Regions from separate parts of the Homo sapiens genome. Here region 2 is linked to region 1. Evidence: fine-mapped expression QTL. A gene starts in region 1. The other region holds a variant in brackets. All regions are shown on one strand. Distances are from middle to middle. Region 1 holds the start of ITLN1 (intelectin 1). Region 2 overlaps CD244 (CD244 molecule).

Region 1 (5,384 bases):
GGTGTGTGCCTGTATTCCCAGGTGCTTGGGAGGCTGAGGTGGGAGGATCACCTGAGCCTGGAAGGTTGAGGCTGCAGTAAGCTGAGATTGTGTCACTGCACTCCATCCAGCCTGGGCAACAGAGTGAGACCCTGTCTCAACATAAATAAATAAATAAAATAAAATAAAGAGAAGCTGCTGTCAAGCAAGCCTGGATCTTGCCCTCTCTCTCGATTTTCTATTTCATGAGGTAATAGATTTACTTTTTAGAAAAGCCACTTTGAGATGGGGTTTCTATTAGTTACAGCTACAAGGAACCAGACTGAACTAAATAAATGTCCAGGGCAGTGGGGTTTGGAGGAAGTTGTGTGGGGAACAGATTCAAGAGGAAGTAGGGGTAGAATCAATGGGACGCAATCACTGATTGGATGATGATGGTTAGAAGGGGTAATGTCCTTAAAATGGATGTACTGTTTTCCCAGTCTATTAGATGGCATCATGTACCATTAAGGATGAGATGCATAATGATATTAAAGATGTCAAAATACAAAAAAAGTGTCTTAGAATCAACTAAAGAAAGTAGTATAAGTGTATATTTTCTTTTTTTATTTTTGCAAATATGTTACTGTTTTATTAAGCCATAAAGTTTTCAGGTGGTTAGTTACACACAGTAATGAACAACTGAGGGGATGTTTAATTTTTTTCTCTAGATCTTGGGCCCTTGGTGTTAACTTTATATACATGTATTTACTATTGTGAACTGTAAACTTAGAGACCTCTATTTTTTTTTTTTTTTTTTGAGATGGAATTTCACTCTTGTTGCCCAGGCTGGAGTGCAATGGTGCGATCTCAGCTCACTGCAACCTCTGCCTCCCGGGTTCAAGCAATTCTCCTGCCTCAGCCTCCCGAGTAGCTTGGATTACAGGCGCCTGACACCGTGCCCAGCTAATTTTATATTTTTAGTAGAGACACGGTTTCACCGTGTTGATCAGGCTGGTCTTGAACTCCTGACCTCAAGTGATTGGCCACCCTCGTCCCCTCAAAGTGCTGGGATTACAGGTGTAAGCCGCAGCGCCTGGCTGAGACCTCTATTTCTAAGAGGTTGTTGTTTGTAAATATGAAAGCTGGGTATGTTCATTTTGTTACCTATACTGATGAGTTAATTTAGTTTCTAATACATTTAATTTTATTTAATTAATTATTTTCCAGATACACAGAGCAAATAGCTTCTAATAGATTTTAAATTTACAAAAGTATAACTTTTTTTTGCAGTTTTTCTTCTTGGGTGCTATTTTATTTTCTTCTATCAATATGTGAGTATTTTTTGCAAATCAGTACTTTGAACCAACAAATAGGAAATATTAGCTTAACAAAAAAGATATTCACAATCTTTGTAAGAAAAGGTTGCAGTATTATTAATGCTATAATGACATTATGTATTAAATGTATGATATCACTGGGGAAGAACTGAGTAATTCTATTACAGCTGCAGGGTAGCATTTGAGAACTTCATGACATAGGAGCAGGAATAAGACAGGAGGTTCGAAGCAGCAGAGAGGTTTCGTATTGATTCAGTTTCAAATGAATCCTGTAGTAAATTTTCCCTCGTTTGTGGCAAAATGACAAAATTAAAGACAAAGTAGTGAGTCTTTGTGTGAAACTAAATTATTCAAACTAAAGATTTATATATTTTTTAAAACTTTTCTATTCGTATTTTTTTGTGTGTTTTGTATCTCTTTCCCCTCCATTCCTTTTTACCAATTTATTCAGAAATGATCACTTTCCCATTTTGTTAAAATTTCCTTTTTCTATTTCTATGAATTGATAATTATGGCCAATGATTAATTTCATTTATTTATTTATTTTGAGATACCTAAGCTGAAGTACAGTGGCACGGTCATATTTCACTGAATCCTCTATCTCTGGGACTTAAGTTACCCTTTTGCCTTGCCTCAGCCCCACCTGAAACTATAGGCAAGTACCACCATGCCATGCTAATTTTTTTACTTTTATTTTTAGTAGAGAAGAGGTTGCCCTATGTTGCCCAGGCTGGTCTCAAACTCCTGAGTTCAAGTGATCCTTCTGCCTTGGCCTCCCAAAGTATTGGGATTTGAGCCAATGTGCCAAGCCAACAGATGCTTAATTTAGAGAAAGTTTTTATTTTGCAAGAAAGAAAGGCACAAAAACCCAAAACCAACACCAACTCTTGTTAATCTCTTCGTCTACTTCCTACTTGACACAGGTCCATGAAACCCCCAGATCCAGGAACAACGCTAGCAGGTGATTCTTAGGATTGGTTTTTTCTTTAGAACCTGTTAATTCCACTGTATAAATAACCTCCCCGAGATAACCAGAAGCCTCCCCTGCACTGGGCATTGTGCCAGGGGAGGGTGAGGCTGGAAACCTTGGTTGGCCCCACTGGGCTTCCTCCATAAAGCTTTCTGCACCTCATTCCACATCAGGAGCGTTTTTGGAGAAAGCTGCACTCTGTTGAGCTCCAGGGCGCAGTGGAGGGAGGGAGTGAAGGAGCTCTCTGTACCCAAGGAAAGTGCAGCTGAGACTCAGACAAGGTCTGTGAGTTGGGGGAATCCTGTTTTCAGCTTAGGTCTGCTTTTGGTCTCAGAGATGTGTGAAGTTTAAACAAAAGGCAAGGGGTTTTGGAGTCTTTGTAAGACTGGACAGGGGTGGGGCAGGGATGTAGAGAAAAATGATGGCCAAGATGGTGACCTTCATCTTGCTTTCTTTAGATTACAATGAACCAACTCAGCTTCCTGCTGTTTCTCATAGCGACCACCAGAGGATGGAGTACAGGTGAGTCACGCTGCTAGGGACAGCAGTTCCTTCAGCTGGATGACTTCCGGGATCCTGGTCTCTCCCAGGACACAGAGCATGTCCTTGAGATGCACAGCGGCTGGCTTGCATGTAGACTGAGTGCCGATTTCTGGTCTCTGGCGGAATCTGGCCTGTGGCAGTGAAGGTATTGCTTGAGGCATGTCCTGGGTCCAGGCTCTGTGCTTTTGTGTGGCCCTGAGGGGGCTGTGGCAAGAACTGTGTCACCTTCCAGCCACTGCCCACTCCTGTGGCCTTGGCTGTGGGATTTCCATGGGAACTACATGGTCTGCTTTGTGCCTGGAGAATGTTCTCTCCACAGTTTTCCTCTCTACAACAAGAATAACAATGACATTTTAAAATTTATATTTTTCTTCACGTCTAAAAATTTTTTTTTTAAAGAAAAGGCTGTTTCGAAATATCTTCTTACTTCATCTTTGCAAAAGCACTGTTTATTAACTGTGTTTTAGGTATGAGGAAACTGAGGTCAGTCACCTCTGACCTCACAGCTTTCCCCTAGACTGTTCGAATAGTTTGCAGACTTTTTGGAGTAGAGATTAGTCTCACCACTCCCTACTTCACACCCCATGTTTCAGCCATATTAAGCAGCTTGTAGTTCTACAGCTGGACTACGCTGTATTTTTTTTTTTTTCTCTAGGCCTTTGGATATGCTGTTTTCCCTGCCTTGGATTGGCTTCCTACTGATAAATCATGTTTATTCTCTCAGAATAAGCTAAGATGTCACCTGGACTGGAAGGTCTTCTGTGACTAAGACATGAGACAACCCGTCTTGCCTTCTTCTCCCAGGCAACTGCCCCGCTTACTGTCTGGCGTTTCCATTCTCCACTGTTACCTCAGAGTCTTTCTTTTGTTCTCTTGAGTTTGCCTTTCTTCTACCATTTATTCTTGTCAATACAATTTTCTGTTGACTTGTTAGCAATTCCCTCTAGAGGCAAGCTCTTGCTGGGGAACTTTAATGTCTTTGATTACTCAGTGCTTAGGGCAGGACCCAGCACAAGGACAGGTCTTGTGGCGGGAGGCAGACTTTAAGCCTGTGCTGGCTGTCAGGTCGGATGGGCTGAGTGGATATGATGCCGATGGGCTGAGTGGATGTGACACTGATGGGCTGAGTGGATATGACACTGGCTGTCTCAGGCCTTACCACCCGGGCAGCGAGGTTCTGCTACAGTGGTGGAATGAGCGTGGGACTAGTGATAGGAGAGGGTAGGTTTTGTGTCAAACCGGGAATGAGAATAAACCCTGTGTATTCCCTAGATGAGGCTAATACTTACTTCAAGGAATGGACCTGTTCTTCGTCTCCATCTCTGCCCAGAAGCTGCAAGGAAATCAAAGACGAATGTCCTAGTGCATTTGGTGAGTGATGAAACATTCAAACAGAGCTCAGTCAGGGTATCAGGATTGTGTCTTCTGGGAGTCTTTTTGTCTTTTAGTTAAAAAATTATGGTAAAGTATATGTATATTATAATTTACATAAGATTTGCCATTTTAAGCAACATTAAGTGTGCAATTCAGTGGCATTAATTACCTTCAAGGTTGTGCAACCATCACAGCTATCCATATGCAGAACTTTTTCAGTGCCCCAAACAGAAACTCTGTACTTAATAACATGGAGGGGCCGGGTGCGGTGGCTCAGGCCTGTAATCCCAGCACTTTAGGAGGCTGAGAGGGGTGGATCAGTTGAGGCCAGGAGTTTGAAACCAGCTTGGCTAACATGGTGGGGCCCTGTCTCTACTAAAATACAAAAATCAATTGGGTGTGGAGTACATGTTTGTAATTCCAGCTACTTGGGAGGCTGAGGTGGGAGGATCGCTTGAACTCAGGAGGCAGAGGTTGCAGTGGGCCAAGATAGTGCCACTTCACTCCAGCCTGGGCAACAGAGTGAGACTCCATCTCAAAAACAAAAACAAAAACAAAACAAAACAAAAAATAACATGGAGTTATTAAGCAATAACTCTCTTCCCTCAGTCTCTGGTAGCTGCATTTTACTTTCTATCTCCATGAATTTGCCTAGTGTAGTTACCTCATGTAATTGGAGTCATATGGTATTTGTCCTTTGGTGTCTGGCTTATTTCACTTAGCACAGTGTTTTGAGGGTTTGTCCATGCTGTAGCATGGATATTTCATTCCCTTTTATCCACTGCAGATACATATATGCACACACACCATGTTTTGTTTATTCATTCACCTGTTGGTGAATATTTGAATTGTTTCTTCTATTTGGCTCTTGTGACTAATGCTGCAATGAACACTGGTGTAAAAGCATCAGCTTGAGGCCCTGTTTTCAATTCTTTTGGGGATAGACCTGCAGTGGAATTGCTGGGTCATACAATAATTCCATGTTTAACTTTATGAAAAATGTCACTGGGATTTTATACAATTCTATGTTCTGCCTCAGTTACAGGAGCATGATCTTCTGAACTCAGGGAGGCCCCAGTACCCCTGGGAGCACTTAGTGATGTGAGTCAGGACAGGAGCCTTTAGGCCATGTCTCTGGTTCCTAGGGCCTTTCTTGTCATGGGGCTGAAATGAACCCTCAGCTCTCAGACAGGGAGGCT
Region 2 (5,384 bases), 28 kb after region 1:
ATATGATGACAGTGAAATTTAAAAAACCACTTTGTTTACTGAATAATTTAACAGGAGTACTATTTATGTAAGATGTGCATATAACTCTTGAGCATTGCGAAATTCTTCCAAAGACTTCTTCTTTCATGCAGAGTAAAAGCCATGCATTTTACAATGGTGCGTGACCTGGCGTCCAAGACCCACTCCTCTTTGTCTCTCCTCTTGCTCACAGCATTTCAGCCATGTTGCCTGCTGGTCCTGGACCTCGCTCTCTGTTGTATCCACAGTTTTCTCTGCCTGGGATGCTGCTCCTTTGCTGGCTACATGGCCTCTTCCCTCAACCCCTCAGAGTTTTGCTCAAATACCTCCTTTTCAGTGATGCCTTCCCCACTGAAAATGTCAGCCTGCCATTCTGCAAACTCTTAGCTCTCTCTCCACTTAATTTTTCTCCATAGTCCTCATCTCCATTTATGTTCCATCCTGTTTACTTATGTTTTTCATTTTCTGTCTCCCAGTCTCCTCTTCAGCCCCCTAGACTGTAAGATCCTTGAGGCCAGGGCTTTTGTCTGTTTTGCTCACCGTTGTCTCCTCAACATCTAGAGCAGTACCTGCCACAAGTCAACCCTCAGTAGATACTTATTTTCACAATAGCAGCCCCCTCTCTGTTCCCATTCTTTCTCTGGATATATTTTGAATAGCTCTGAACCAGGGCTATTGAGGATTCAGTGGCAAGTAAGTCCAGGGCCCGTTTGTTCAGAGAGCTTGCGCTAGATTGCCTGAGTCACTGTTACTACAGTTGTGATTAGTGCCTGGTGCAGTGCCAATGCAGTAGGTGTTCAAAACATGTTTGTTGAGTGAATAAGTGAATTATTTTCAGGCATCTTAACGGGCAGCCTGGGATGTTTTTTGGGTTAGACATATTGGGAAGGAGGGATCTTCAAATCATTGCCCAGGGAATAGGCCTGGGCCCTAAAATTCATTTTAGACCCAAAATTCAGGTTTCAGTTGTCCGTTCTGAGGAAACCCCAAAGGACACACAGGCTGGAGGCTATGAATCCCCAGATGCTTTACAGCCTGAGTTGAGATCTGCTGGACAATAAAAGGGCACAGGTGACACCTTATAGATTAGCTCCAAGGGTTGCCAGCTGTTTGCGTAGATTGTGTTGGAACTGTCACTTCTCAGGGAGTGGTGTCTAACTGCGACTGCTTTGGCTGGGATCCAGGCAAGCTGTAGAAGGGCTGGAGTCGTTTTTGCTCTTCTCTTCCTCATTGCACCTCCCCTCCAACAAAGGGTGAATGGCAAAGTAGCTGGACACAGAAAAGAGATTGGAATTCAATGTACCCTGGGCTACAGCACCATCCAGAAAGGAATCCACTGAAATCACTTCAAGGAGAGACAGGGCATGTCTTGTTTTTTTTTTTAATTTTTTATTTTTATTTATTTATTTTTATTTTTTTGTGAGACAGGGTCTTGCTCTATCACCCAGGCTGGAGTGCAGTGATGTGATCACAGCTCACTGTAGCCTTGACCTCCTGGGCTCAAGCAATCCTTCTGCCTCAGCCTCCTTAGTAGCTGGGACTACAGGCATGTATCACCACACTTGGCTTATTTTTAATTTTTGTGTAGAGATGGGGTTTTGCTATGCTGCCTGGGCTGGTCTTGACCTCCTGGGCTCAAGCAATCCTCTTGCCTTGGCCTCCCAAATTACTGGGATTACAGATGTGGGCCACTGTGCCCAGCCAGGCCATTGTCTTCACAGACAAACCTCTCTTATTGAAGTGCAACATACAGAAAAGTACACAAAATTACAAATGTACATCTCAATGAGCTATTGTTAAATGAACACACTCTTGTGTCTACCACATGTTCTCTCCCATTCATTACTTCCTCTGTCTTCCATAAATATAGCCACAATTCTGACTTCTAACATCACAGATTTGTTTTGTCCGTATATATGGAATCAAACGGTATGCACTCTTGTGTCTGACTACTTTTGCTCAACATCTTATGAGATTTATGTATGTTATTATTTGTAGCAGATCATTTTCATGGCTGTATAGTATTTTATCGCATGACTATATCATAGTTTATTCACCTTTTCTATTATTGATGAACCTTTGGGTTGCTTTCAATTTTGTTTTTGCTATTATAATAATGCTGTGATGAGCCTTTTGTGCATGCATGTCTGTTGGGTATATCTCTAGGGGCAGAACCATGGAGTATGTGTACGTAACTCTAGCAGATGCTGTCAAACTGTTTTCCAAAGTGGTTGAACCAAATAGTGCATGAGAGTTCCATGCTGCTTTGGGGCCACTGGCTTTTGGTTCTGAAGGTCTGCAGATGGAAAATTAAATTGTGGAAATGTGGAGCTTGGCAAGAGGCCAAAGGCAAGGGAATTACAGCTCTGTGATTTCTCTGGTATCCTGCATGAAATTCTGACAATAGAGTCATTTTTAGGAGTTATGTGAGATGCATTGTTGAATTAATTAATTTAAACGGATTCATGAAGCCCTTGCTTGGGTTGTTCATTTTGCTGTTGTGACGTTTGAATTTCTTGTCTATTCTGCATATTAGTTGCCTGTAGGATTCATAGTTTGCAATTTTTTT[TC/C]CTATTCTATTGGTTGCCTTTTCACTCTGTGAATTGTTTCCTTTACTGTACATGATTTTTTTTTAGTTTGCTGTAATACCATTTGTTTATTTTGCTTCTGTTGCCTGTGCTTTTGAGGTCTTATTCATAAACTCTTTCCCCAGCCCTTATTATGCTCCAAGAACTATGCAAGGTTTTGTGGGGGAAACAAAGATGAAACAGATGTCTATTCTACCCTTAAGAATCTTTCAGACAGAGGAAAATGGGTATGTATAATTACAACTATAAGGGAAGATGGAAATGCTATGTGTCATTAACAGGCAAGATACATTTAGAATAAAAAAGGAGCTAAGAAGATGAAGATTCCTTCTAGGTAGGAACACTGGGGAACTGGCCTTGAAGAATAAATAAGAGTTTAGGAGGTAGGTACAAAGTAGAAGGACAATTGAAGCAGAGGAAACAGCTCAGAAAAGCCAGGGTTGCATGGGGTTTGGATGGGAAACAGGAAAGGGAGATGCACTTGTTATCATGGAGAAACAATATCACATATGAGATGATTTGGTTAACTGATGCAAAGAGTGGGACTTGGGCTAGGTGAGTTTTGACAGAGGTAAGGGAGTTGCATTGCCTGAGGAAGAGAGTTAATATGGTCAGTATGAAGCTAAATAGAGAGGAAGAAAGAAATGGGATGTGGGCCCTATAGGATACTTTATCTATCTTATGATTTTGCCCTGACTAGAGCTGGATTGCCCCAGTACTTTTGGAATCTCACTGGACTCTGTTCACTTAGTCCCCAGCAGGTACATCTTTTGATGCCTTCACCCCAAGCCTGGTAGCACAAGCCCTAGCTGAGAAAACCTTAACATCTATTTGTTGGCTGGTGGAAATTCCACTTGCTCTGAGACCCTCCCGTGCTCCTTCTCCCAGGTGCTCAGGCCCCACACCTTCCTCCGACTGGCAGGTCCAGGTTGGAGGAAGCTGAGCTGACTCAGAGCTCTGCACATGGGCTCAGGGCTGAGCGGGACTCACTGCTGGATCAGATTGTCTCCTTCACCATCCTCTGTACTTGTCTCCTTGACCATCCTCTGTTCTTCCTGAGGCTGCAGTGGAGTTAATCATCTGCCCTCTGCCCTCCCTTTCAGAGTTACTAGTTCACCTCATCCGTTCTTAACCACAGGAAGGTGGCCCCCAAAGCTGCTGAGCAGTAGCAACAGCAGTGGCAGGGGCCCGGGGGCCTTCCTGGACTGTGGCCTCTTTCCTCTAAACAATTTTCACTTGTTGGGTCCTCCTCTATGCCTCACTAAATGTGTGAGAACTTGTGTTGAAGTTATGTTTTCGTAGTAGCATTTCATCTCCCCTATCTGGTGTGTGTACCCCTCTGGGACAGAAACTGAGGTCTTTCTGTATCAGTCACAATACCCTGGACATAGTGACTTGTCTACTTGCCTTTTCACCGTATCTGCTTTGCACCCCTGCCCTGGCACCCACCCCTTCCAGGCCGTCCATGGAAACTCATTCCAACCATCTTCCTCCTTCCCACACTGGACTGTTGGGGGCTGCAGGAGAAAATTCAGCAACAAAGAGCAGCTACAGATTCGTAATCTCCAACCCCAGCTGGACTCTCAGTGTCCTGGGAATCCTCATTTCTGGCCCACAGCTTCTCCTGTTCCCCAAAAGGTGGGAGAATTCCACACCTTCGTCATCTCTTTCAAGGCCCTGTTCCACTATCTCAGCCTCCACAAACCAACAACCTCCTTCTTTAAGAAAACAGAAGCACAAGTTAGGGATTCCACCAACCTTGCCAACAAGTCTCCAGTGTCAATGTACTTCATCTACTCCTGTAAATGGCCACATTTGCCTCTGCTGAGGGCAAGAGTGTTCTTGCCCTGTCCTTGACCAATACTCCCCTGTGTGCTCAGGGCACCAGAGCTTCTTTCAGAAGTCACCTGGGACCTGCTGTCTGTGAAGACATCCCTCATCTTTCTTCAGCTGCTCCTTTTCTGTGGGCTTCCTACCTTTAGTACAGTTTCCTTCCAGTTGAAAAATCAAAACAACACCTGGTGTTCTCTCTAGCTCCTTTTTATTTGCAGACAAACCAGTCTTAAATGTATAAACTAATATAATATTACATAAAAATAAAATATAACGGCCTAATTTTTAAAAAGACCCCAAAGGCAGTATAGCATGAGGACTGTAGATCACACATTTCATTCTTTAAGTATTTAGAAGTCTATGGCTGGGAGTGGTGGCTCACGCCAGAACTTTGGGAGGCTGAGACGGGTGGATTACTTGAGGTCAGGAGTTCAAGACCAGCCTGGCCAATATGGCGAAACCCTGTCTCTACTAAAAATACAAAAAAAAAAAAAAGAATAGCTGGGGGTGGTGGCAGGCACCTGTAGTCCCAGTTACTCATGAGGCTGAGACAGGAGAATCACTTGAACCTGGGAGGCAGAGATTGCAGTGAGCCGAGATCATGCCACTGCACACCAGTCTGGGTGACAGAGCGAGACTCTGTCTTAAAACAAACAAACAAACAAAGAAGTCTAGACAATAACTTAACCATTTTCCTGTGTGATTCCTATTCAGTTTTATAATAGCAGAGAACAACCTTCTTCTACATAGCGCTCTACATTCTGATCTACTGGTGGATTATATGGGAGTTTACGTTATTTTTCATTACACCGTATATTTATATTTAAGTACCTTTTAATACTTGTGCTACCTCTCACAATTTTATAAAAGATAAAAATAAAGTGAAACCACCACTAAACACCTGAAAATTAAACTCATGTTCCATCACCCCATTCTCCAAACCTG

The links. PIP is the estimated chance that this variant, and not a neighbour inherited with it, causes the effect. A credible set is the group of variants that fine-mapping cannot tell apart.
Region 2: its variant is the best candidate, but not a certain one, in a credible set for the expression of ITLN1 in whole blood (INTERVAL, PIP 0.66).

The regions. Positions count from the first base shown.
Region 1 is chr1:160,882,226-160,887,609 of GRCh38, reverse strand. ITLN1 (intelectin 1) reads left to right here and starts at 2,430. Exons shown (of 8, transcript NM_017625.3): 1 at 2,430-2,549; 2 at 2,727-2,790; 3 at 4,084-4,182. The coding sequence starts at 2,733.
Region 2 is chr1:160,854,102-160,859,485 of GRCh38, reverse strand. All of the region lies in intron 1 of CD244 (CD244 molecule), which reads left to right. Among named protein-coding and RNA genes, the nearest start is that of CD244, 6.1 kb to the left of the region's middle. RefSeq lists an enhancer at 4,049-4,098. The variant TC/C (reference allele first, on the strand shown) is at 2,588.